Linked DNA regions of Homo sapiens. The protein of the gene in region 1 purifies or fractionates together with the protein of each later gene. This does not show direct contact. Each region holds a gene or a part of one and is shown in the gene's direction. Other genes may lie near its edges.

The links.
Region 2: the proteins of PMM2 (region 1) and PPIL1 fractionate together in Homo sapiens (co-fractionation; one large-scale study listed by BioGRID). This does not show direct contact.
Region 3: the proteins of PMM2 (region 1) and ALDH4A1 fractionate together in Homo sapiens (co-fractionation; one large-scale study listed by BioGRID). This does not show direct contact.
Region 4: the proteins of PMM2 (region 1) and AKR1C3 fractionate together in Homo sapiens (co-fractionation; one large-scale study listed by BioGRID). This does not show direct contact.
Region 5: the proteins of PMM2 (region 1) and TAGLN3 fractionate together in Homo sapiens (co-fractionation; one large-scale study listed by BioGRID). This does not show direct contact.
Region 6: the proteins of PMM2 (region 1) and SEC14L2 fractionate together in Homo sapiens (co-fractionation; one large-scale study listed by BioGRID). This does not show direct contact.
Region 7: the proteins of PMM2 (region 1) and ANXA11 fractionate together in Homo sapiens (co-fractionation; one large-scale study listed by BioGRID). This does not show direct contact.

The regions. Positions count from the first base shown.
Region 1 is NC_000016.10:8,811,339-8,814,838, forward strand, and holds part of PMM2 (phosphomannomutase 2), read left to right. Parts: intron 1-299; coding exon 300-375; intron 376-1,652; coding exon 1,653-1,768; intron 1,769-3,500. UniProt on the Homo sapiens protein: Involved in the synthesis of the GDP-mannose and dolichol-phosphate-mannose required for a number of critical mannosyl transfer reactions.
Region 2 is NC_000006.12:36,872,004-36,876,246, reverse strand, and holds the start of PPIL1 (peptidyl-prolyl cis-trans isomerase-like 1), read left to right. Parts: upstream 1-1,443; 5' UTR 1,444-1,474; coding exon 1,475-1,530; intron 1,531-4,243. UniProt on the Homo sapiens protein: Involved in pre-mRNA splicing as component of the spliceosome. PPIases accelerate the folding of proteins. Catalyzes the cis-trans isomerization of proline imidic peptide bonds in oligopeptides. Catalyzes prolyl peptide bond isomerization in CDC40/PRP17.
Region 3 is NC_000001.11:18,889,056-18,892,555, reverse strand, and holds part of ALDH4A1 (delta-1-pyrroline-5-carboxylate dehydrogenase, mitochondrial isoform a precursor), read left to right. Parts: intron 1-1,664; exon of another isoform or gene 1,665-1,862; intron 1,863-2,450; coding exon 2,451-2,544; intron 2,545-3,101; coding exon 3,102-3,194; intron 3,195-3,500. UniProt on the Homo sapiens protein: Irreversible conversion of delta-1-pyrroline-5-carboxylate (P5C), derived either from proline or ornithine, to glutamate. This is a necessary step in the pathway interconnecting the urea and tricarboxylic acid cycles.
Region 4 is NC_000010.11:5,104,414-5,108,186, forward strand, and holds the end of AKR1C3 (aldo-keto reductase family 1 member C3), read left to right. Parts: intron 1-1,181; coding exon 1,182-1,264; intron 1,265-3,047; coding exon 3,048-3,090; 3' UTR 3,091-3,273; downstream 3,274-3,773. UniProt on the Homo sapiens protein: Cytosolic aldo-keto reductase that catalyzes the NADH and NADPH-dependent reduction of ketosteroids to hydroxysteroids.
Region 5 is NC_000003.12:112,001,922-112,005,421, forward strand, and holds part of TAGLN3 (transgelin-3), read left to right. Parts: intron 1-3,500.
Region 6 is NC_000022.11:30,414,018-30,417,517, forward strand, and holds part of SEC14L2 (SEC14-like protein 2), read left to right. Parts: intron 1-1,741; coding exon 1,742-1,848; intron 1,849-1,930; coding exon 1,931-2,070; intron 2,071-2,216; coding exon 2,217-2,386; coding exon of another isoform or gene 2,387-2,484; exon of another isoform or gene 2,485-2,958; intron 2,959-3,500. UniProt on the Homo sapiens protein: Carrier protein. Binds to some hydrophobic molecules and promotes their transfer between the different cellular sites. Binds with high affinity to alpha-tocopherol. Also binds with a weaker affinity to other tocopherols and to tocotrienols.
Region 7 is NC_000010.11:80,150,389-80,153,537, reverse strand, and holds the end of ANXA11 (annexin A11), read left to right. Parts: 3' UTR 1-2,649; downstream 2,650-3,149. UniProt on the Homo sapiens protein: Binds specifically to calcyclin in a calcium-dependent manner. Required for midbody formation and completion of the terminal phase of cytokinesis.

The DNA.
Region 1 (3,500 bases):
GACCTCATCTCTACAAATAATAAAAAAAAAAATTAGCTGGGCATGGTGGCACACACCTGTGGTCCCGGCTATTTGTTTGGCTGAGGTAAGAGGATCACTTGTGCCTGGGAGGTTGAAGCTGCTGTGAGCTATGATCATGCCACTGCGCTCCAGCCTGGGCAACAGAGCAAGACCCCCATCTCAAAAACTAAACAAATAAATAAATCAATAAGATAATCCTACCTTTGTGGCCAGTAGTTAAAACTGTGCTTTCTAAACTGCAATACAAGAAACAATTGGTATCTTTTTGTTTTTCTCAGAAAGAAAATATAAGACAAAAGTTTGTAGCAGATCTACGGAAAGAGTTTGCTGGAAAAGGCCTCACGTTTTCCATAGGTATTGTATATATTGCCTGTGTTCCAAACTTGGATACCCATTTCCCAGAGTTTGTTGTGGGCCAGTGAGCTATTGATAATGAAGTATGTGCAGTTTTAGGTGGGCAGGAAGATTAAATGAGCAGTCCAGTCTATAGACAAAAACCAACCACTCTCTTTTCTGCATAATTAGCCATAATAGGACTTGCCTAGTCAAGAAACAGCTTACACGCTGTTGGGCTTGGTTCTAAATTCTTACCCAACAGCATTCTTCCTACCTGGACTCCTCTCATCAAAAGAGGAGCACTTTGATTACTAAAGAGTAGGAACTTCTCACACCTTTGGGCAGAAGAGAAGCACTATAGTGAACTCCATAAGGGAGACATGGAATTGAACCCCTTAGGTAAACTAGACCGATGTTTTGGAATCATAGAATGTTTCAACAGCAAGGAACCTTAGGGGCCAATTGGGTGGCTTTTACAGATCAAGAAACTGAGGCCCAGAAAGGAGAAGAGACTTGTCCAAGTTCACAAAGCTGTTGTTTACACAGCCAGTGTGTGAACGTTTCTGGTGTCTAATGCAGAGTTCTTCCTGCAGCACGGACATCTCAGGCTTGTCTTTTGTTAGAATATTCCTGCCAAATGCTTTGCACACCGATTTCTCTTGTCAGTGCTAATGAGTCATTGCTCAAAGCCTCCTCATTTTACTAGCTTTCATCAAGGTAGAGGTTGTAGGAAAACTGGAATGGCAAAGGGATTATATTTAACAGATGAGTGGGTGGGTTTTTTGTCTTCCTGAACTGTGAGATGGACATCTTTCTGACAAAGCTTTGAAAGGGTTTTTGTTGCCCGTGAGCACTGCCTGTAAATCACCTTCAGTGAAGATTCTCATTTTTCCCGCAAAATATGCCGGATGCAACCTGCTTCCGGGCATTTCCCCCTGAGGGTGTGTTAAAGCCCGAGACAAGCACAGCAGAATGAGGCTGGTATCCGATTTTTCATAAGCATGCTTCCTTTAAACCACACGCTTGACAGGGCGCTTAAACGCAAATGCATTTCTCACTCTGAGTTGGCATTCTGTGCCTCAATTTTAGACCTATGTGAAATAATGCTGGAAAAAAACAATGTAGAATTAATTTCTAGAACCTATGCATGAAGTAGTCTAAGTAGCAAACTAGAGTACTGAAAATCAACCTTGGCAACCCACTAACTGACAAAAGAGTAAATTGTTTTTTTCAGTGACATATCATTAGCCCCTTTTTCACCTTTTGCCTTTGTGTGCCCCGTCCCCACCCGGCAGGAGGCCAGATCAGCTTTGATGTCTTTCCTGATGGATGGGACAAGAGATACTGTCTGCGACATGTGGAAAATGACGGTTATAAGACCATTTATTTCTTTGGAGACAAAACTATGCCAGTAAGTAGAGAAGTGTTTGTGCACCTTCATTGTTGCATTTGCGCTTGATGGGGGAAATTGACAACTGGGCTGTTTTTCCTGTACCTACACTTTACCCACCCGCCCTGCTCAAACTGAGCAGTGGCTTCTGTCCTGGAGAGGTGGGTGATTGAGCCACCTTCCCCTCTAAGCTCAGACCCCCGACGCCTCTGTGGAGGCAAGGATCACACTGCATGTTAGTTGAACCTTTTCACCTTGGCTTTGGAATTAAACGTTGGCCACCCTATGTGCCTTCCAGAATACCAGTCCCCGGTGCCACTGTCAAACCCTCTGCGTTTCAAAGCTCTGGCTGTTTCAACCTCATTTTTCCACTGTATTTGTCCACCCGAGGCATTCATTCTAAGTTGAACACGAGGGGCCATGAACGATGGGAGGATAGGGAATGATCTCATGAGCCTGAAACAGGAGAGGACACCAGCAACAGCAAAGAGGCCAAGTGAGTCCCAGGCATCACACACGGCGGGTGCTTGGAGCTGCCCCCAAGGGATGTCAGAAATCTCGAGTTCAGGGCCAAATCTAAACTGAGAACTGAGAGCAGAGCCCAGTGTTAAAGGCCAGGGCCAGCAGGAGGAATACATAGAAGAAATGCCCCCAGGTGTCCTCTCCGTGGGGCAAGGTGGATCCCCAGGAGGTCAGAGAGGCGTTGCTGCCATCAAAGGCCCAAGAGGAGGCTCATCACCACCCAGCTTTGGGCCAGCTCCTTTTCTTTCTCTTTTTTTTTTTTTTTTTTTTTTTTTCTGAGACAGAGTCTCGCTCTGTTGCCCAGGCTGGAGTGCAGTGGTGCAATCTTGGCTCACTGCAACCTCTGCCTCCCAGGTTCAAGCAATCCTTGTGCCTCAGCCTCCTGAGTACCTGATATTACGGGCATGCACCACCACACCTGGCTGATTTTTGTGTTTTTAGTAGAGATAGGGTTTTACCATGTTAACCAGGCTGGTCTCAAACCCCTGGGCTCAAGTGATCCAATCAACTCGGCCGCTCAAAGTTCTGGGATGACAGGTGTGATTTTTAGTACAGACAGGGTTTCATCATGTTGGCCAGGCTGGTCTTGATTCCTGGCCTCAAGGAATCTGCCTGCCTCAGCGATCCACCCACCTCGGCCTCTCAGTTCTGGGATGACAGGCCGCGCCCAGCCCCATCACCTTTTCAGTTACTCCCATCCTCTGGGCCCCTCTGCCTCCCTCCCACATGCAGGCTGGGGGTGTTGGTTACCTTGCCATCAGCAGGCCCGTGTCAGGCTTTCTCGCCATCCTGCACCTAGCAGGTGCATCATAAATGCTGCATATTCAGAGTTTCTCATCCCTCTGATCTCTGGTCCACTCCAAAATCCTTGCTGCACTGCTAAGATCTACCCATGAAAGATTTGCTTTTCAGCAGGGTCCCCACGTCACAGTCTTCCAGCATGAGGGGTACACAGTGGTAGTAGAGGCTTGTTACTTATTTTCAGAATGATAAAACTGAAACCCATAAAGGGTAAGGGATTTGCCGAAGGTCACACGGCTAATGACAGAGCTGGTGGCACCAGAAGAAGTCTACCTGTTCTTTGTATGTTTTAAATAGCTTTATTGAGGTATAATTGATCAGCAAAAGCTGTACATATTTAACGCTCACAGTTTCGTGAGTTTAATCATTGTGCCTCTTTGGTTTTGGGGGCGGTTTGGGATTTTTTTGTTGCTATTGTTATAAGAACACT
Region 2 (4,243 bases), on another chromosome or scaffold:
GGCTTTTCAATATTCAGACATTGGAGCCTGGGAATGGCACATGACTCCCGAGATACACAGTAAAGAACTACATAAAGTCCAGAGAAAGGCAACTTAACAACAGACTAAACAGACCAAGGATTAAGACTTTTTCATCCAGCTCAAGGGCCACAAGGTGGGCATGAACTTGAAACTGCAGGAGGTGTAAAAATTATACTTTAGCATTTATCAGTTTAAAATGTAGTGTTCCGTTCATTATTCATTCAGCAAAGCTGAGCACCCTGTGCTCTGTACTGTGCAAGAAGAGCACAAAGATGAAGGAGGCCCAGCTCCTCTCTCAAGGAGCTGTCTAGTTTATCTTTACAACCTTGTACATCCTTATTCCTTGTTGACAATTAGGGACATTACAGTTGAACTGTCGTTAAGAGCACAAGTGCACCAGCTGTAGTACTTTAAGCAAGTTATTTAATCTGTAAGGCTCAGCTTCCTCAAAGTAAAATGGGAATAGTAATATCTACCTTGTGGGATTTTGAAGATTAAGCGTGAAAATACGCAATAAAATGCTTAGCTTGATGCCTGGCACATGGTAAACATTCAACCATCATTATTAAGTGGTGTGCAAAGCATTTACAGCGTTAAGTTTAGGTACTCTATTTCATTTTTGTCCTCCCTCCAAACATTATAGCTCCTCTAATTTGCTTCTGTTCCTCGCGCCCTGCGCAAACCCTCCTAACAACTTTCAGGTACCATCTATCCCAGCCAATGTTAAGCCTTGTTCTTGCTCTGATCCGTTTGTCCTGTTTTCTCCTGTCTCTTCCTTTCTTTATCTCCTATTTTCTTCCTGCCCCTTCCCTCTCTTTTCTCCTCAGACTCCTCGTCTTTGGATTCTGCAGGCTCAGATTTGCTTTATGACTATGGAAAAACAAGTATTAACTGCCGAGTCTATTTTCAGATCTGAAAAATGGTAATAATACTATCTACTTATAGAATTGTTTTGTGGAGTAGATGAGATAAGAAAGTGCAAGCACTGTGTACATCGTACAGCGCCTTACAAAAATTCTTTACTGGCATCTCTAAACTACCCTCTTTCATTCTCTGCCTCCCCTTCCCGTCCCTGCCCAATTGTGAGACTAAGAAATTCTTCGAATTTAATATTAGGACATAACTCCAACCAGAGCGCAGCTTTTCTGGTTGTTCCCGCCTTCCATGCCTAAACGAACCAATCAGATCGCCCAGAGTGGCGCGGTATCGCCACTTGGAGACCACCGCGAATGAAGTTTGCATTTTCCTCTGTTCTTGAGCCCAGCTTCTTCTCGTCTCCCACCCCAGCTTCCCGGCATTGGAAGAAGGGACCGTCCTCTTCCTTGTCTTGGCCACCCAAATCCTGGTATCGAAAGGGTTGAACGGACCGGAAGTGTGCAGCAGCGACGGGTCCCCAGCTAATCGACGCCGGAAGTAGCAATTACTAGACAAGCATTCCGCCGCCGGCTTCGCTATGGCGGCAATTCCCCCAGATTCCTGGCAGCCACCCAACGTTTACTTGGAGACCAGGTGAGGGGGTTCGGGCGTCTGGGGCTGGCAGAGGAGACGCGGAGCCCGGGCCTCACCACGGGTCTGCGTTCCTGGCGCGTTCCTCCGGGAGGCCGGCCTCCACGTGGAGGGGCGTGGAGCAGCGGCCGAGACGGCCCCCAGAGGGTTGAGAGGGGACCGCCATCGCCCGCGTCCAAGCTCCGCGGGGTCTTGTGCTGAGGTCTCAGCAATAGCTGCCTGATTGTCCTCCTTCCCCCAGTCCGCTCATTCATTCATTCATTCATTCAACAAACGTGTAATGAGTCCGCAAGCCAGGCATATGGAATATGAGTTCTGAGGATACAGAGGTAGATAAAACACAGACAGCCCTGCCTTTAGGAGCTTACGGTATAATGAAAGAGACAGACATGTAAACATTACGTGATAAGTAATACAGTTGTAGAAACAAATTCCAGTAAAATACAGGAAGAAGCACATTTTCCCCACTATCAAAGAGTGATGTGGTAACCAACCTGCTGGCGCCATGCCCCGCTGTATGTCATCTCATTTAGTTTAATCTTAGCAACTCAAATCATGAAGGTATTATTTAACTTTCTCCCTTTCAATATTAGCAGGAGGAAACGCCGGAATTTACAGCTTAAAGCCTTGACCAAAGCCACACAGCTAGTAACTGGAAGAACCTCGTTTGGAGCCTGGTGTGCTCGTCTCACCTTGCTAGATCCTTTAGCTCTATTCATTCCATTGCCTCTTTGGAAAAAGCTCAAAGTGATCTTTACAAAGTAGGACAAGGAAGGGATCCTGCTCAAAAAACCTTTAATAACGTCTTGCTGCTATAACAGTATAAAGTAAAAACGTATTAATCCTGACATTCAAGGTGATTTTTTTCATCTGGCCCTTGTCTACCTGCCATTCTCCCCTCAACAGCCAGGGACCAGCCAAGGTCCTCTGCCTTTCTGTTCTTGCCCATTGCTGCTTTCAGCTAAAGCAGAGTTCTGTCAGTCCTCTCTCTATTTGCTCATGCTGTTCATTTCATGCTCCCTGGCCATCTTCCCCACCTTATATGGCAAAATTCTACATCTTCAGGCTCCAACCTGTAATTTCTGAATTCTCCTGTTGGTATTTTTTAAAGTTACAAAATAAATTGTTAAATCCAAGCAATGTAGACATACAGAGTAAGAAGTGAAAGTCACCTCCTTCCTGAAAACACCATCAACAGTTTGTTGGATGATTGTCCAGACTTTTTTCTATGTACATATAAACCTCTCTCATGTTTTTTTAACAAAAAAATGGGATCATATGATCATACTGTATGTATGTTTTTTCTGTAACTTGGTTTTCTTTCACTCAGTAATTCAGGTAGCTGCCCATAGTATGGATAGTTGATATTTTAGGCATTTCCTATTTCAAGGACATTTAAGTTGCTTCCTTTTTTTTTGGCTATGACAAATACTGAGATGAACATCCTTGCACATATTGTATCCTTAGGCACTTTTGTATATTTTCCTAGAGGATACTTGGAAGTTGAAATTACTGAGGTATGCACATTTCAGAATTGTATACGTACTTCCTGATTGTCTTTCCAAAAGGCTACTTTCTGTATTTTGAAAATATCCTCCAGAATGTAAGCTTCATGAGGGAAAGAGTACCACACACAGAGTAACTGTCAATCTGTGTTGAATGGGAGCAGTGTGAAAGATGAATTGGATGAATTTCAGGCAGAAAGGCTGTTAGCTATTTTCTAGCACACTCCTCATATACTTATAGAGTGTTTACACTGTGCAAGGCACTGGGTATCCAGACTATACAGAGTTGACTCAATTCTCACATCTGGCCAGGTGCCATAGCTCACATCTGTAATCCAGCACTTTGGGAGGCCAAGGCAGGTAGATTGCTTGAGCCCAGGAGTTCAAGACAAGCCCGGGCAACATGGTGAAACCCCATCTCTACAAAAAAATACAACAAATTAGCTGAGCTTGGTGATGCATGCCTGTAGTCCCAGCTACTCAGGAGGCTGAGGTGAGAGGATCACTTGAGCCCGGGAGGTGGAGGTTGCGATAAGCTGAGATTGTGCCACTGCACTGTAACCTGGGTGACAGAGGAGACCCTTTCTCAAAAAAAAAAAAATTGTCACATCCTTGGAGCTTAAAGTCTAGGTATGTGCTGGAGTAGAGGGGAAGGCACTCGTCCTTTCTCTTGCCTCTTCCTTATCTTTTAGTAGTACTGGTGAGGAAAAAGCACTCATCCTATTGGGTAGGTGCAAAGATTCAAAGTTACCAGGTTTTGCCTTTGTTATACTCCCTCCCAAACAAACACAAACTGTACCTTTTATTGAAATTTTTTGAATAGGTAATGTATTTACATGGATCAAAAATACAAAAGTTTTTAAAAGGTATTCATTAAACATCTTCCTATTTTCCATCTACCCAGTCCCTACCCCCACCCAGAAACTTCTAAATAAATATGAACTCCTGATATTTTAATGTCTCTTTTTTTAAAAAATTAAAAATTAAGTGTAAGAATTTTTTTCCTAATTTAGGGGTTGGTTATATTGGTTTCAGATAATCAGATATAGCTATATATATATACATATGTATATATGTATAGTATTAGAATTTTGAGTTCTCCATGCTTGTTATTTTGCTGAAAAGAAGTACCCAGAACACCTGCGTGTTTTACTCAAAAAAGATAATGGGTGTTTATGTTACTTGCATTGTGGTGTTTTCCTTTGCTGAGC
Region 3 (3,500 bases), on another chromosome or scaffold:
TCCTTCTACCTGGGATGCTCTTCCCAGCTCCTCTCAAGCCTCCTTTAAGTCCCTCTCAGGGTCACCTCCTCAGAGAGGCCTTCCCTGACCACCCTGGCTGAAGCAGCCCTATTCTCCCCCTTGTTTGCCATGCTCACCATCTGCGGTTACCTTGCTTATTTCCTGACCAGGCCTCACACTGAAGGTCACCTGTGTGCAGCCAGGGGCCTCGCTGTCTCTGTCACTGCTTTATCTCCAGGGTCTGAGACGGCACCAGAGACCCAGCAGGTCCTCAGTCAACCTCAAGTCAAGTGGAATGAACACAGGGCCTGGCCACACTCCTTTGGTTTTGTGTCCTTCCTTCAGGCTTCCCAGGCTGGGTCTTTGAGCCCCAGACTCCTTCTGGCCCCCGACACTCATAGCCGGGCCAGTCTGTCTCCCATAGGGCAAAAACAATCCCGCAGAACACTAGCCTCAGGCCACGTCCCTCTGAGACCATGATCAGATGAGACACAATAAGCCCTCTTCCTGATTTTTTTTTTTTTCCTTGAGATGGAATCTTGCTCTGTCATCCAGGCTGGAGTGCAGTGGCGTGATCTCAGCTCACTGCAACCTCTGCCTCCCGGGTTCATGTGATTCTTCTGCCTCAGCCTCCCAAGTAGCTGGGAGTACAGGAGTGGGCCACTACGCCCAGCTAATTTTTGTATTTTTAGTAGAGACGGGGTTTTACCATATTGGCCAGGCTGGTCTCACACTCCTGACCTCAAGTGATCCGCCCACCTTGGCCTCCCAAAGTCCTGTGATTACAGGTGTGAGCCACCATGCCGGGCCTTCTCTTCATGATTTTTGTCTAAGCACGGACAAAAACAAGGTCTCTGTGCCACCCACAAAGCTCTGCACATCTTGGTAAATGTTCCTTTTTTCCCAGTCAGCCTCACCCCCACTTTCTGATGGCAGCCAATCCAGAGCTAACCGTGGCTTCCTTAAACCCTCCCCAAGTCACCCTGCCAAACCCCATGGGTTTCCTAACAGCATCTTACTGAGATGCCCTGTGGTTCCCTACGCTGTGTGTTTTCCCTCATTGCGCCGACCAGTGAACCCCACCTGTGCACTTCCAGCTGTTCGGGTTGTCTGGGGCCATTGACACCAGAGAGAGATGGTATCTGGGCCTTCTGGACTCAAGTGCAGGTTTCCCCTACTCTTGATCTTGAACTAGTCATTTTCCTTTTAGGACCAAAATGACCTTATTTCTGTAGAGAGGTGGCTGGTGAGGCCCGTCCTATGCCACGGTAGATGGGAAGTTTGTCAATTTCAAGTGCCCTTTGGGCATTAGTTGACTTTGTCATCATCATTCTTCTCATTTACAGAGGGGGAAACAGGCCTGAAGGGGAAGCCCCACAGCTGGGAGGTGGCAGGGCTGAGGCTCCAGCTCTGGAATGACTGACCCCAGCGTCCTAGCTTTGAGCCACCTGACCTCCCACCTTGTGACCCTCAGATGTGGTAGGGGGTGGTGGAAAGAGGTCAGAGGATTTGAGCAAGGAGTTCTTGAGACTCAGTGTCCTGGAATCAGGCACCTCACCCCCAGGGCCAGCCCTCCCGGGGCTGTGAGCTGAGCTCAGGGCAGCTCTCCAAGTTCATGGTCCACATCTTGGACATTCCTGCCCAGCCAGAGCTCTCAGCCCTTTGTGCCAAGGGGATCTCAGCTGGTTCACATTCTGAGACTGTGTTCTGGAATGTGCTGCCCTTTCAGCTTAGAGAGAGGAGTTTGGGTCTTTTTGGGATAAAGCCTGCCTTGTGGGAGAAGAAAGGGAGAGTAACGCTTTGCATGTGGAAAATACTTCAACGTGGTTTTGCATCTGTGTGTTTAAACTTCAAACAACCGCGTGAGTTCGGTGCGATTATTCTTACTTGATAGACGTAGAACCACGTTCACAGGAGGCAACTCACAGGCTCAAGGACACACAACCGTGGGACTGGGACTTGAACCTTGGGTTGTGGACCCCCAAGGTGGGTTTTTGTTGTTGTTTTGAGATGGAGTTTTTCGCTCTCTCACCCAGGCTGGAGTGCAGTGGCACGATCTCGGCTCACTGCAACCTCTGCCTCCTGGGTTCAAGCAATTCTCTTGCCTCAGCCTCCTGAGTAGCTCAGACTACAGGCACACATGCCACCACACCTGGCTAACGTTTAAAATATTTTTAGTAGAGACGGGATTTCACCGTGTTGGCCAGGCTGGTCTCGAACTCCTGACCTCAAGTGATTTGCCCGCCTTGGTCTCCCAAAGTGCTGGGATTACAGGTGTGAGCCACCATGCCCAGCCCAAGGTGGGGTTTTGACCCCCCACTTTCTAGTTGCATTGGATTTCAGGCTCTGGGTGCCCACCTAGGACCCCCTGTCGGAGGTAGAGGGGCTGGGGTCTGGTGGTGGGGCCGCTGCTGACCTCTCTGCCTCTGTCCCCTGCCCTTGTGTTCCAGCCTGCGGTGGAAGCACACCTCCTCCCTGAAGGTGGCCAACGAGCCCGTCTTAGCCTTCACGCAGGGCAGCCCTGAGCGAGATGCCCTGCAAAAGGTAATGGGAGGGTGGGAGGCACCCGAGAGGTGCAGGGCATGGAGCAGAGGCCATCCCCAGCAGCCCTGAGATAGCGCCCCGTGCCTGCAGCCATCACCCGCTTCTACCCTTGCTCCCAGCCTTGGGTGGAAGCCTGGGAGGGCTGTGGGTCTGGAGTGTGGGAACAGCTGGGAGGACCAAGGTGGCAGCCTGGAGCTACTCTGGGGCTTCTCAGGCCAGGTCAGATGTCATAAACCTAGTTGTTTTATAGTTAAACATGTTTTCCAGTTAATTGCCAGCATTTTAAAAATCATGAGATTTCATATAAGTTTCAGGTGCAGTTTTTTTATCTCTGTGTCATGGGTAGACCTCACCTTCCTGCAGGGTGACAATGGCTGGAGCAGAGTCCGGCTGTCCCCGAGGGCAGCACATGTTCTCTGATGGCCACCGACCTGGCCTGGCCCCCTTCTCATTTCTGTATTGCCTGGGCACCTCCGTCTGTGGACTCTGCGTTAGGGTTTTAGATGGGAGGAAGCGAGGAAGGCGGTGACCATACCCACTCTTGTCCCTCTCCCCAGGCCTTGAAGGACCTGAAGGGCCGGATGGAAGCCATCCCATGCGTGGTGGGGGATGAGGAGGTGTGGACGTCGGACGTGCAGTACCAAGTGTCGGTATGTCCAGCGGGTGGGCAGAGCTCAGCCCCTCCCCTGAATATGTGACCTCTTTCTCTGACAGCTCGTAAGCTTATAATGTGTGGGCTCTGACTTCAAGGCCTTTATAGTGCCCCTCCCCACCCCAGATTTTGAATTCTGTGGACCAGTAAAACTCCCAAAGCAAAGGACGGCACCCACACTGCATCCAGCCCATAGCGGCATCCTGTGTCTGGGCAAGAAAGGCCATGAGGGGGCCACACAGCATCTTCTGTTATTCCTCATAGATTTCTTGCCAAGGGGGTTTGGGAGCTAATGACAAAAAGC
Region 4 (3,773 bases), on another chromosome or scaffold:
CATTCACAAATAATATTCTTGCCTCTCTTTTGTCTTCAATTGACTTATTTACTTTTCTGTACTGTCTAAATAATGAAAGGTCTTGCTACCAGAATGGTACAACTTTTTTTCTAACTCTTTATTTTATTTGATAATATCTTGATTATTCTTGACTGACTATTCTGTTATATGAAATTTTGAAACATCAACATCCATGAAAGAGTACATATTTTAGTCTTTGGTTGATATTGTATTGAAACTGCAGTTCACTGTGAAGAGAACTTTTTGACAATATTGAGACTTTCAACCTATGATGAATTTCCAACTATTTAAATGGCCTTTTAATATATATATCATTAATTTTATAACATTCTCCATTAAACCATATGTATTTTTAAATATTTATCCATAGAATACTGAAAATTATTAGAACCTCTTGATAACGTTTTCCTTTTTGTTTTGTGGATTTTCTAATGTGTAGAAATGTTAAAAGAAAAATGTAATGAACACCTTTTACCTAGACTAATTGTTAACTTGTTCATGTTTTTTATTCTCTCTCTCTCATTCTCTGTATCACTATTAGAGTGATTTAGTCAATTTATAGATTTATTCAATTCCATGTGTTAGCAATTAGTGGCATCCTCTTGATATTTAAAGTCTCTCAAATTTAGAGAGTAAGATACACTTCAAGCCTGTATCTGTTTCCTTTAGACATGAAATTGTTAGTAATTAGACAATTCCTGCCTTGAATTATGTTGAAAACAAATGTTGTTTGCATTATACCTGTTTATTAAAGAGATATAGAAATTCAACAATATCTATCAAACTTAATATATAATCTTGTTATTTAAAAATTTGCCTCTAGATTCTTGTGGGCCTTCTAGGTACATGACCCTATCATGTGGGCACAATGTGACCCTATCATGTGGGCACAATGTCAGCGCTGTTTCTTCTCCATTTTCTGTTGAAATTTTCTCTTTGTCTGCAGAGTTGCACAGTTTCAATACATAATATCTAGGAATGGATTTCTGCTTATTTTTCGTGAGCTATTCATTGACCCACCTGAGTGTTTAGAGCTGACTTCTATAACTGTTTAAAACTTACCAATATTTTAAGTATTGTCTCTGCACCCTACTGTCTAATATACTTGGGGATTCACAACTGGCAATCTAAAAATAATAAAAGTTTTTTATTTCTGATAGGTTTTTGAGTTCCAGTTGACTGCAGAGGACATGAAAGCCATAGATGGCCTAGACAGAAATCTCCACTATTTTAACAGTGATAGGTAAGTTTCCTTTGTAAATGGGTGATCTAATTTATTTCTGGAGAAGGAATGTAGGATGGGTGTTGAGAGTGACCTCCATACCAGAGGGACAGAGGCCAATGTGAGTCAGAGGTGAGACTGGAACTCTCCTGCTGGATTCACTCCAGAGCTCTGTTCTCTGGCAGGGTGAGTGGGCAGGGATCAGCATGGGTCAACCTGTGCCTCTGCTCTCCTGACTCCATGGAACTTTCCAGAGCAGCCAACATCATTGCCAAGTCTGCACGTTCCATATAGGCCTGGTGTTTCTACCACTGGACATGCTGTGGATACTGCCCATGTGACTTCATTAGATGTTTCCAAATCTGTGCTTATATCACATTGTCCCAAACCTGCTCAGCTCCTTATCAAATCAAAAACATTTCCATCAACTTTGTGGTCCAGGTGCCAATTCCCACCTCCTTCATATGGAATTGCTTGCTAGATCCTGTCAATTCAGCATCTTTTATTATTTCAAATGTTTTTCCTCCTTCTCCTTGCATGTTTGTTCATGCCCCAAACTCTGCTTTTGCCTCCAGAAAGCCTTCCTTAGTGGAGTGAATAGGAGCGCTTGTCCTTGATTTCCTGCAATATGGAGCTCTCAAGGCAGAGAATTTAAAAAAATTTAAAATCAAGGAGTGTGAGTGTGGAGGCAGAAGCTCCATTGTTGTATATAATTTGTAGCTGATAAAAGATCTTTACTATTCCTTCATGGTCTAAGGTTCTAGGATTCATAGACGGTCATTCATGTAAATGCAGGAAAAGCAGGAAGTTATGGCCGGGCGCAGTGGCTCACGCCTATAATCCCAGCACTTTGGGAGGCTGAGGTGGGCAGATCGACTGAGGTCAGGAGTTCGAGACCAGCCTGGCCAACATGGTGAAACCCTGTCTCTACTAAAAATATAAAAATTAGCCAGGCATGGTGACACTTACCTGTAATCCCAGCTACTTGGAAGGCTGAGGCAGGAGAATCGCTTGAACCCAGGAGGCAAAGGATGCAGCAGTGAGCTGAGATCACACCACTGCACTCCAGCCTGAATGACAGAGTGAGGCTCCATCTCAAAAAAAAAAAGCAGGAAGTTATGTAACTGCTGGCAGTGGAAATTTTAACAAGTGATAGGGTGAGATAGTGTGTGAAAAAGCATAAGTACAGTGGCCCTTCATAAGTGCTTAAAAATTGGTAGATATCATTGTTAATATTTTTTTAGTTTCAAGGAAAATAAATAAAAAAAGGAAACCATGTAAAAGAAAGGAAGAGTAGCGAGCATGAGTAATTCTTATCATCCATTAAAAATGTAATAAGTTGGTGTTTATCTGTTCCTTTATATTTCATGTTATTTCTATATAAGAATTTTTAATGCACTGTAGCTCCTTGGATATTAGACCCTATATCATATATAACAATTTACATTTCTGAATCTTACAAAATATATTGCATACAGTAGACAGTAGCAGGTAATAAGTAAAGTAACAAAAGAAAGTATAATCAGAGTATCTCTGCTCTGCTGACAGATGTACAGGAATATACTTGAATATTTGACTTTGTGTGTTTTACGTGTTAACTTCCAGATAAGGGAATATGATTGAATAATTTATTATTTTGAAAATACTGTATTATGAAGCCATGTTCATAAAGGTAAGAAAGGCAGATTCTACAACTAGTCAGACAACTTAACATTCATACTAATGACAGCTTCATTGAAATCACTTTACTACTCCCCTAGTAATGGAGTCATTGCATTTATATTATACATTATTCTCTTTTCAGTTTTGCTAGCCACCCTAATTATCCATATTCAGATGAATATTAACATGGAGGGCTTTGCCTGATGTCTACCAGAAGCCCTGTGTGTGGATGGTGACGCAGAGGACGTCTCTATGCCGGTGACTGGACATATCACCTCTACTTAAATCCGTCCTGTTTAGCGACTTCAGTCAACTACAGCTGAGTCCATAGGCCAGAAAGACAATAAATTTTTATCATTTTGAAATAATTGAATGTTTTCTCAAAGATTCTTTACCTACTCTGTTCTGTAGTGTGTGTTTTCTTCTGGCTCAGAAGTGTGTGTGTGTGTGTGTGTGTGTGTGTGTGCTTTCTTCTGGCTCAACAGGGCTAAAAACTGTGTGATTTGCCTGTAAGTTAGGAGTGGGGGAATAATAATCATTTATAGACATACTATAGTGGGACTGCAGTAGAGTTTTCAGCCTCTAGAGAAGGAGCAGGTGACAGGTGTGGATCAGTTAGTGCCTCTTTAGCTCTTTCAGGAAGAACTCGCACAGCATGAACTCTGGAAGGTAAGCGATATTGACAGGATGACCAGCAATCCACAGGCTCCCTACAGCAGCGCAAGGGTCAGAGCTCCTGGAGCCTGGGGAGGAGGCATCCCTGTGAGAGGGGTGGTCAGGGCACCCACCAAGGAGAAATAATTGAAAGAAGCTATGGGGGAGGTTAGGAGAAGGGAGTCAATCCCATCTCTGCTTGGAAAATATTGGC
Region 5 (3,500 bases), on another chromosome or scaffold:
CTCACCACACTATGATTTATAAAGAAACAATTGCCTCCTTAATCCTCGGCGTCATGCAAAGAGCTGGCATTGCATGTTTCCCTCATAGGTGAGTGGTTAAAATCCTACGATGCTAATAAGTTTACCTTGTGGTTTGCCATTATTTAGAAACTCAGATATTCAAAACTGCAGGCCAGGCCAGGCTATGGATCTTGCTGTTGAGCCTCCAAATTCTCATGTAATTTCACAGTTGAGATTTGATCCTTGCTTCCTCGATCAAAACTATGATGATTTTTTCTAGCTAATACAGATAGCTACATAGCTACTGCTTATTGATGTTTTCCTATGCACAAGGCATTGTACAAGTGCTTTATTGCATAATGTCAGTCAGTTCTGCTAACAATCCTATGAGGTAAATGTTTTTTAATTTCCCCATTTCAAAGATGATGATACTGAAGCTTGCCCATGATTTCTTGTGTCCATGAGATAGCAGAGCCAGAATTCAAACCTGGGCTCTCTGACAGCAAAGAATAGAGCCTTAACTAGTCTGCCAACCCATTCTTGAGCCAGGAGGCTTAGTTTCCTTCACCTACACCGTGAGTGTGCTGTTGAATCATAATGGTGACTAGGTGATGAGGATGAAGAGGAGGTGGGGGAGGAGGTGAGGAGGAGGAAGATGACTCAGGACTGTGTAGGACAGAAGGATAGGAGAGTCAGTGTGAATGGAAGGGACCCGGGTGAGTCCCCCCCCCACCCCACAAAGTGCAGGAAGTGTGTGGGAGGAGGAAGAAGCCAGGAGGTCTGTGGGAGGTGAGGATTCTGAGAGCTTTCCTGTCTTCATGCTACTGAGGATGCTTTACTTGTCTCTCCCCTTTTTACAAAGAACACAAAGGTAAACTTTACTCGTCAGAGGTGCTCACAGCAAGTGTGGAGGAGTGTAGGGAGAAATAGTCCCTGATGTACAGAGTCGGAGGAGGTATACACCACCTGCCCCAGACCCGTGTGTTAGACTCCTCTAAAGAAAGAGGGAGGCCTGGAGGGATGAGTGTGGTCGCCTGAGCCAGGGCCGTGGACCAGTCAGCTCCAGGGCAACAAGACAGACACTAAGACTCCCAGCCCTAGGGTAGAAAAATGGGGCTTTAAAGGAAATAAGGAAGGAGGTCCACTCCAAGGGCACCTGGGCTGACAGGTAGCAGGAAGAACTGTAGGTAGGTCATGCAGTAGGTAGGGTTGAACAGGAGAGCTGTCAATAGGAAAGCAGGTGCTTCAGAGTTTCCAAATGGCCCCAAGAGGCCCCAGGGTCTGGTGGCTGACTCTATGGAATGGCCAAAGTCCAGGGAGATTCATTATAAGTTGGAGGGGATATCTGATATTCCCCAGGATCACTGTCTGAAGCTTAGGCCAATGCTGGTCACCATACAACAGGGCAGGAGGTACAAAAGTGGGTCGCTTTGAGCAGAGAAGCAGGAAGAGGGAGGGGAAGGCTGACAGTACTGCAGAGCAGACTGAGCAAGTGAGGCTGGGGTCCTTTCTGCAAGAACTGGTTGTTGCTCATGTGTTTTGGCATAAGAAAGCTGAAATCAAAGGAATGCTGCGGGGCAGGGTTGGCACGTGTTATGTGTCTATGTGCATGTGAGGGGGTACATGTTTGTGCACACAGCTATTAGACTAGCTGTTTGCTTAGCTTAGTCCCACATTCTCCCTACTATTCTCTACCTTGACTGTGGTTTTAATGCTGTCCTCACATATCAACTTACATTAATTCTGGATTCCCTGCACCTTGGTTGTGGTGTCTGTGGCCACTGTGGCTCCAGCCCTCCTTGCCTAGGAGCTTCTTTTCCTCCTCTGCAAGTATTTCATGCCCAACCTCTCACTCTCCCATCTCCCCTACTCAGTGTCTTCTCCCAAGTAGGGCTCTGCTTGCCCACAGCTGCCCTCTGACTCTTCAGGCTGCCTGGATGTTGCAAACCCGTAAGTCTGGAGGAGCCCAGGCTTGCCAAATGCATTCTTGTTTAGGCTTCAATCACTTCTATAGGCTGAGGCCCCAGATGTACCACTATCCTTAATCCCCCCAGGTGAAATACTTCAGATAGACTGCAGGGTAATTGGAATACAAGATTGAAGGCTTTAAAATGAAACCCAAAGCTAAATGGTCCAGAAAAACAACACAATCACAGGGACATTATAGATAAAGCTACTGAAGTCCCCCTAGCAGGGAGCTGGGGTGACCACTTGCTTTCAGTGATGGAGAAGAAGTAGGGTGGCTTAGAGGAATGGAAGGGGCCTGGGAAGTCTTCTCTTGGAAAACAGAAGGTGAATGGCCTGGCAGATTACTTTTGGATTTGCCATGGGTGCCCTGGAAAGGGCAGGGGTGGGGCCATCTCAGCTGTCTATGATTCAGAAGAAAGTACTCTGCAGGTAAGACTTCAGCATCTTTTCTGTGGACAGAAAGTGGGAAAGGAAGAAAAGGCAGAGCAAGAAAGGTGGGGGGCGGGGGGTGTGTGTAAGAGAGAGAGAGAACATATTAGAGCAAGTGAGTGTGCTGGTGTAGTATCAGGACAGAAAGACTGCAATACAAGCTTATCCTGGAAAGTATTACAGGAGAGTACAGGCTCCTGAGTCAGAAATTAGACTGCCTGGCCAAACCTGTGCTCTACCACTTATCAATTAACTTCTCTAAGCCTCGATTTTCTCAGTTGTAAAGTGGGGATAATCATATGTATTTCACAGGGTTGATATGGAAAGTAAACAAGATAGTTCATTAGAAGTGTTTAGCATGGTTCATGATGATAGTAGAAGATAATAAAAGTTGGTAATGTAGAAATTATTATTGTCATTGGCTTGTCTTTTCTAAGATTAACAGAAAATAAGGGAGGGAAAAGTAAGTCTGGAAAGACACTCACTCTGTCTTAGAACAAATGGACTTAGTGGCCACATACAGGAGCTGGTGTTGCGGGGGCGGGGGAGGTTGCCTGAATGACCTTTGCCCTCTCTGACAGCTGTGGAGCTTGTACCTCATCAGATATTCTCTAATACAAATGACCAGGCTTTAGGCATCACTTTATTGACATTTTTTTCCACTTTGTGATCATTACCCTCTTGATGTCTTTCCCCATAATTTACTGCTTTACTAATTCCAGACACAGAAGACCCCACTACACTGGAAAGAGCATGAGTTTTGGAGTCAGGTGGATGGGTTCAAATCTCTTTTGCTACATACTAACTGTGTGACCTTGTTTAAATTGCCTAGTTTCTCAGAGCCTCAGTTCCCTTCTCGGTAAACAGTTCTAATGCCTCTCTTTTGTAGAATTTTTGTAAGGATTAACTATGTAAAGAAGCTAGCACAGTGCCTGGCTACCAGACACCTAATAAATGTTGGCTTTCCCCCCCACACTATTAGTCATTCAGCAACTGATCTTTTTGGTTCATTTGTATAACCACTTGATGTGCATTAAACGTATAAAATTCTAGAATGTCAGAGCAGGCAAGACTCACAGATCGATCAGTCTCATGGCTCTTCT
Region 6 (3,500 bases), on another chromosome or scaffold:
ACGGGAGCTCACTATGTTGCCCAGGTTGATCTTGAACTCCTGGGATCAAGCAATCCTCCTGCCTCAGCCTCCCAAATCACTGGGATTACAGGCATGAGCCACTGCACCCAGCCAGCTCTCTGCTTTTTGTTGCCTCAGTTATTCTCTCTGTAAGATGGGAAGAATCCTCCTGGCCTTATCCCAACTCTCCAGCTGGACTGGGGGAAGAACTATAAAAGCTGAGCAAGAGGTTTTTATGATTTTTGTTTTTTCTGCTGCTACCACCCACCATGGGCATGAGACGGTTTGGTTTCCTGGCAGCAGAGCTGTGTAGGAGGTTCAGTCTGTTCCCCTACCACACCTAAAACTCTTTCAACCAAACCTGCCTCAGGCTGGGAAGATACAGAATTTTCAACAGAGGGGGGAGATTCACTCGGGCTGGTCACTGGAGCTTAGCAGTGCAGATTAAATCACCCCAAGACCACAGACACTGTGTTCCCAGGAGTTGCATGGTCTTTGGTCCCTAAAAATCTGAGGGCTGGCAGACTCTGGACAGTTTCTGCGGGTCTCCAGCCAGCATGACACTGGCTTGTACCCCAGGGCCTGGAGCTGCTGCCTATATATGCTCTATATAGTAGGCATAGGCAGGTTTTAGTATCAAAATATTGTACCTGGCTGATATTTGTGAATTTGGATTGGTGAAGTGGTTCTTAGCATTGGCTGTGCTAGAGTCAAACTCTCCTAGACAGGAAGGAGCTTGGGTATTTTAAAAAAAAAAAAAAAGAGCCAAATTACTGGTGGCTCAACAGCTGAAAACAATGGGAGCAGAAGTGAAATGGTGGCTGGGGTAAAGCCAAGAATCCATTTAAGGGGTGACTCTACAGAGATGCATTTACTTATTAAGTCACGACTTAGCTGTAGGGGAAGGTGGGGGAAAGACACATAGTTCTGCCCTCACAGTGTTCAGTATAATCAGGACAGGGTATGTGCATTCAGGCCTTCCTGCCCGCCACACGTGCTGTTTCCTCTGCATGGAATGTCCTTCTACCCTTTCTTTGTCCCCTCTCCTGCTGTACTTCAATGTATCACCTCCATGGGGTAATAACATACTCTTAACGTGTATAAGGCACTTTATGGTTTAAAAAGCCCTCTCGGCCGGGCGCAGTGGCTCATGCCTGTAATCCCAGCACTTTGGGAGGCCGAGGTGGGTGGATCATCTGAGGTCAGGAGTTCGAGACCAGCCTGGCCAACATGGTGAAACCCTATCTCTACTAAAAATACAAAAAATTAGCTGGGTGTGGTGTCGGGCGCCTGTTGTCCTAGCTTCTCAGGAGGCTGAGGCGGAAGAATCACTTGAACCCGGGAGGCGGAGGTTGCAGTGATCCAAGATTGCGCCACTGTACTCTAGCCTAGGCAACAGGGTGAGACTCTGTCTCAAACAGAAAAGCCTTCTCAAGTACTTAGTTCATTTCACTCCCACCATAACCAGGCAGGGCAAGAATGTCACTTAGCTGTTCAGACACGAGGGCAGGAACCAGGGTCTCGATTTCTGGCCTGGGGCAGAGCCATCCTCTGGCTCCTGCTGAACCCCCTGCAGTACTATGCATGCACTGTGTGCTCCTAATGCAGGAATTTGAGGCGGGGTGTTGTGGGGTGCAATGGATGGGTTTTTTCTGCCTCTTTAGTGTAGACCACTAGGGTTATGGCGAAATCTTACCTAGTGTTGAGATACATCTTTATCCTTCCTTCCCTCTCCTGCCAGCAAATTGGAAGGAGGTTTTACTGAAACATATCAGCCCTGACCAGGTGCCTGTGGAGTATGGGGGCACCATGACTGACCCTGATGGAAACCCCAAGTGCAAATCCAAGGTATGAGCCGCCAGAGGCTAGAGGTGAACAGGGATGCCTGGCTCAAATGCACATTCCAGTTCACTCCATGCCATGCTTCTAGATCAACTACGGGGGTGACATCCCCAGGAAGTATTATGTGCGAGACCAGGTGAAACAGCAGTATGAACACAGCGTGCAGATTTCCCGTGGCTCCTCCCACCAAGTGGAGTATGAGATCCTCTTCCCTGGCTGTGTCCTCAGGTAGGGGCCTGGGCCCTTCCAGGAGACCCGAGCTTTCATCTATAGGTCCTGATAGGTGGGCTGGAATAGGAGAAGCCCTGGTGCCAGGACCCCGGAGAGGGCACACACAGACAGAATTATGTCTCAATTGGTGATATCCCCTGCAGGTGGCAGTTTATGTCAGATGGAGCGGATGTTGGTTTTGGGATTTTCCTGAAGACCAAGATGGGAGAGAGGCAGCGGGCAGGGGAGATGACAGAGGTGCTGCCCAACCAGAGGTACAACTCCCACCTGGTCCCTGAAGATGGGACCCTCACCTGCAGTGATCCTGGCATCTGTAAGTATCTCTGCCTTGGCAATGCCTTGAAGCCCCATGTCCAGCTTTCTGCCTGTGAGGTTCCTCTTCCTCCATGGATTTTTGGCTCTGAGTGTTAGAACTAGAAGTGGAATGCCATCAGTTCAATCCTCTCCTTGTATAGATGAAGAAATCTAGCCTTGGAGACTTGTTTATGGTGACCCAACTGGTTAACAGCAGGGTGGGACTTTGATCTCATACTCCTAGGTATGGGTGAGTCACAGTCCTAGGCGATCACAGGGGTTCAACACGTCTGCTTTCTGGTCCAGGTCTAACTGGGTCTGTGACTGGACAGATATTTCTTGGGGATGCTCCTTCCCAGAGGTCACAGAGACAGAACTGGCTGGGTGGGCATGGGATCACAAGGTAAGCAGATGCTCAAAAGTGCAGCCTTCACCCCTGAGTTTCACTCATCTCCCAGCTGACCAAAGAATGGACACAGACTATGAGCAGGCAGTTTACACAAGAATATAAGAATGGGAAACAGACATTTGAAAAGGTGCTTAATCTCTCTTAACTTTGTAATACCATTAAAATTCCCCTTGACTCAGCAATTCTACTTGTGAAAATTTATCCTACAGAAATACACAAATACTCAAAGATACAGGAACAAGGATATTCCCGGTAGCCTGGGAAACTGGCAGTAAACCATATGACCATGATAAGGTCTGTTAAGTAAATTACAGTCCATCCATACAATGTTAAAGAGAATAAACTGACATGTAAACTGTCTGGGACATGTTAAACAAATAAGCATGAAACACAGCATGTATGGTATGTACTTACTTTGGTTAAGGAAGTGTGTACACAGAAAAGAACTCTGGGGAAATTTATGCTAACTCTAACAGTGGTTATCTCTGGGATGATAGGATGTTTATGGAGGGCTTTCATTTTTACAGTATTTCTGCAAATATATTTTATGATGACTACGTATTAATATTACATTTATAAGCAGAAAAACCATACCTACACTCCCTTCAACACCCACAATCAAATCTCCAGTTTCTTTTTGTCAGAGCCAATGGAAAATCAATCAGAGCAAAGGCTTTATCATCAGAGCTGAGCTGGACTTGACTAAAGGCTAGCTCCATGGCCT
Region 7 (3,149 bases), on another chromosome or scaffold:
TGGGGCCTAGAACCAATGTGCTCTGATGTGACCATATTCTGTGACATTACCTTGCCCTGTTTACTCCAAAGTTCCCAGCCTGGTGCCCAGCAGGCAATATTGCACCTACAGACACATTTACTTTGGTTTCCAAAGTGTTTTTAGACATTTGAATTTGTTGCCAACATTTAAACATTGAGAGATTTCATATTTTTAAAAATCTGGAATTCTGGCTTCTCTTGAAAACTCAGAAATTCTGGCACTATGGGGCTTGCATTCCTGCATGGCTGGAGCTGAGTTGCAGCTGCCCCTTTAGGCCTGTACTCCTTATTTGCTATAGGCTCCGTCTTGTATTACACTAAGCCCATGTCACCCATTTGGCTCCTGCAGGCCTTTGGGTTTGAGACCCTGGTCTACACACTTGGAGACCACCTGTTGTAAAGTACATGGATGTGCTTTGGTCAAGGAATAGACCAAGGTGGATATCCAGGCCAGAGTGACTCAGCGAGTTTAGGTCACAGGCGTATACTCCACTTGTTATATAACCTGCTTGTGTAAGTTCATACTTGGCTCAAAGCCACTATTGTTTGGAAAAGGTATAACTGCCCTGCTGACGCTGTACAGATGTTCTTGGGCTCGGATGGGCATGGCTCCACGTGGTGTGCACTAGCACCCAGAGAGAGTGAAGCTATTGACCCCTGTAAGGGAGAGTGACCATCTGGCAGATAGATAGAGGGGAGCCAGGACATGGCTCAGCTTGTGCCCAGAGGGAGAGTTAAGCCGCTGACCCTGTAGCCAGGGAGTGCACCTGCAAGCATGGGGGTGGCAGGAGCCACAGAGCTGGCTGCTGAGAGGAGCTGCAGATCTGGAGAAGACAGCCTAGGTAAAGGTGGACAGTGTGAGAGCTGCTGATGAGATAGCTGCTGAATAAAACTACATTTTACCTGCCTATGGCCCGCCAGGTTTTCTTTCAGCTATCGCCCATCCACCCAGTCCCCTCGAACCTCAGCATGGGCTGGAACCTGACCCTGGGCATGACATTTGGCATAGTTGTGGACCTGACACCTGTGTTTGTCCTAGTCCTGTTTCTCCCTGCCTTCCTGTTCCTCTCGCTGCCCTCATGGTCACTCCCAAGAGATCCAACCCATGTTAAGTATGGGCTGGAGGACTGCATGAATGCCTCATGATCTTCCCAGAGGCAAAGGCACCTACTGCCTTCCAAGGTCAGTGGGAGGTTGGGATCAACACTGTTTATTATGCTTAGGACAAAAAAGATAGGGAGAAAGATGTGCAACCTTACAGGTCATCTTTCTGGGATAGAACACAATGGGTCTTCTCCTGCCTCCTGGATATGTTAGTCAAGGCCAGTCCATGCTACACATCTAGTCTGACTTCTAAAATAGAAGCACCAGATGAATTCAGCCCTGAGAGAATTTTCAGCAGCTGTGGGGGCGCTGGAGGAAACACTATTAAATAGTTTTGCACCTGAGACAGATAGCCTCACTCGCCTCACCCTAGTCCTGGTGGCATTTGTCTCAGGTGCAAAATTTAAGAAAGAAACCTTGGAGTGCTCACCCTGTGGCTGGGTAGATGGTCCTAAAGTGGTGGTTTTCAAGCCTGAGTGTGTATCAGGATCATCAGGGGAGCTTGCTAAAGAGCAGTTCCTGCGGTCAGACCCTCATGCATTTTGAGCAGGTGTGGGGACTGGGAAACTGCATCTGTAACCTGCTGTAATCTAACGCTTATCTAAATACTACTGTGCTCACACAGAGAACACCGCAAAAGTAGAGGTGTTCCTCCAGAGGGCAGGTGAGCAGATGGCACAGTCTGCTTGGAATTCAGTCAGGTGATGAGAGATGAGATGAGGCACTCCTAGCTTTGGGAAGAGGGAGCTGAAAGATGAACCTTTGCAGGTGCCCACGGTCAAAGTGGTGGTTTAATGCCATGCCATGCCCATTTTCTGTTGGCCTTGGCAGGGAGTTACAGCCCTACCTTAGGACCTGGCTCCTTATTTCTGCTGTAGGCTCTTTCCTGCCCTGGCCGAGATGGAGTGGAATGAGACCTAGAAACATCAAGCTAAATACATGTCCTCAGAAAGATAAAGGTTTACATTTTCACCCCCATCAAATCTGAAAGCTCTCTGCCTGTGTTTTTCTAAGGGATAGGGACATCATTACTCAGTCCACAACCTGGACTCATGTAGGGTCCCCTGTCAGTAAAGGAGTCAGTCAAGCCCACCAGGTATACCAAGGACTCTTACCCTCAGCCCCTACTCCTTGGAAAGCTGCCCCTTGGCCTAATATTGGTGTTTAGCTTGAGCCTGACTCCTTCTCAACACTAAGAGCTGATGAAGTCCTGAAGCAGAAAGAGCTCTGACCTGAGAGTCAAACATCCTTATTCTGATCTCAGCTCAGCCCCTGATTTGTTGTGTGACCCTGGATATGTCACTTCCTGTCTTTTTGACTTTTTAAAATGAAGGGTAGACTAGAGGAGAGCTTCTAAAACTTTAATGTGGTCAACGAAATGGAATAGGAAATTCCACAAGTCTGTCCTTCCACAAAAGCAGCAAATAAGGTGGCAAAAACTCAAATTTATGGGAACTCTGGAAACGAATTGAAAGTTTACAGCAATCAGGTGAATACCTAAGAATAAAAGCTGGATTTAGTAAGAGAGCTTTGTTGTGTTTTAGCTTACCCTGGCCCCATCCCCCACTCCCCAGCATGGCAGCAGCATCAAAAACAATATCCCTCATTCCCTGTATAGGTTCCTGTCACTGGAGGTAGCAGATTAGACCTTATTTTCAAGAAGTATGTTGATTTTGATTTGATTTGTTGCTCCCTGAAGGACTGGTTCAAATGCCTTTCTTTTATTTTGCCTAATTTGGAGCTCTCCTAAAGTGAAGATGGCAGCCTGGAAAGACGTTTCAAGGTCAGTGTATTAGTGGCTCATGCCTAGGGGAAGGAATAACATTTGGAGCAAACAGGAGACAAATTGAAAAGCTTCAGGAGGAAAGGCTAGGAAATAAGATTCTTTGGGTGAGAATAAGGACTTTAAAGAGATTCCACATATTCCTGGGAATCTGAAAGACCATACACATGCCTAGGGCTGGGCATGTGCTTAAAAAGACTTGAGAGGGCCCTATGCTGTCACCTCTGCCTGACCTTCAGGCT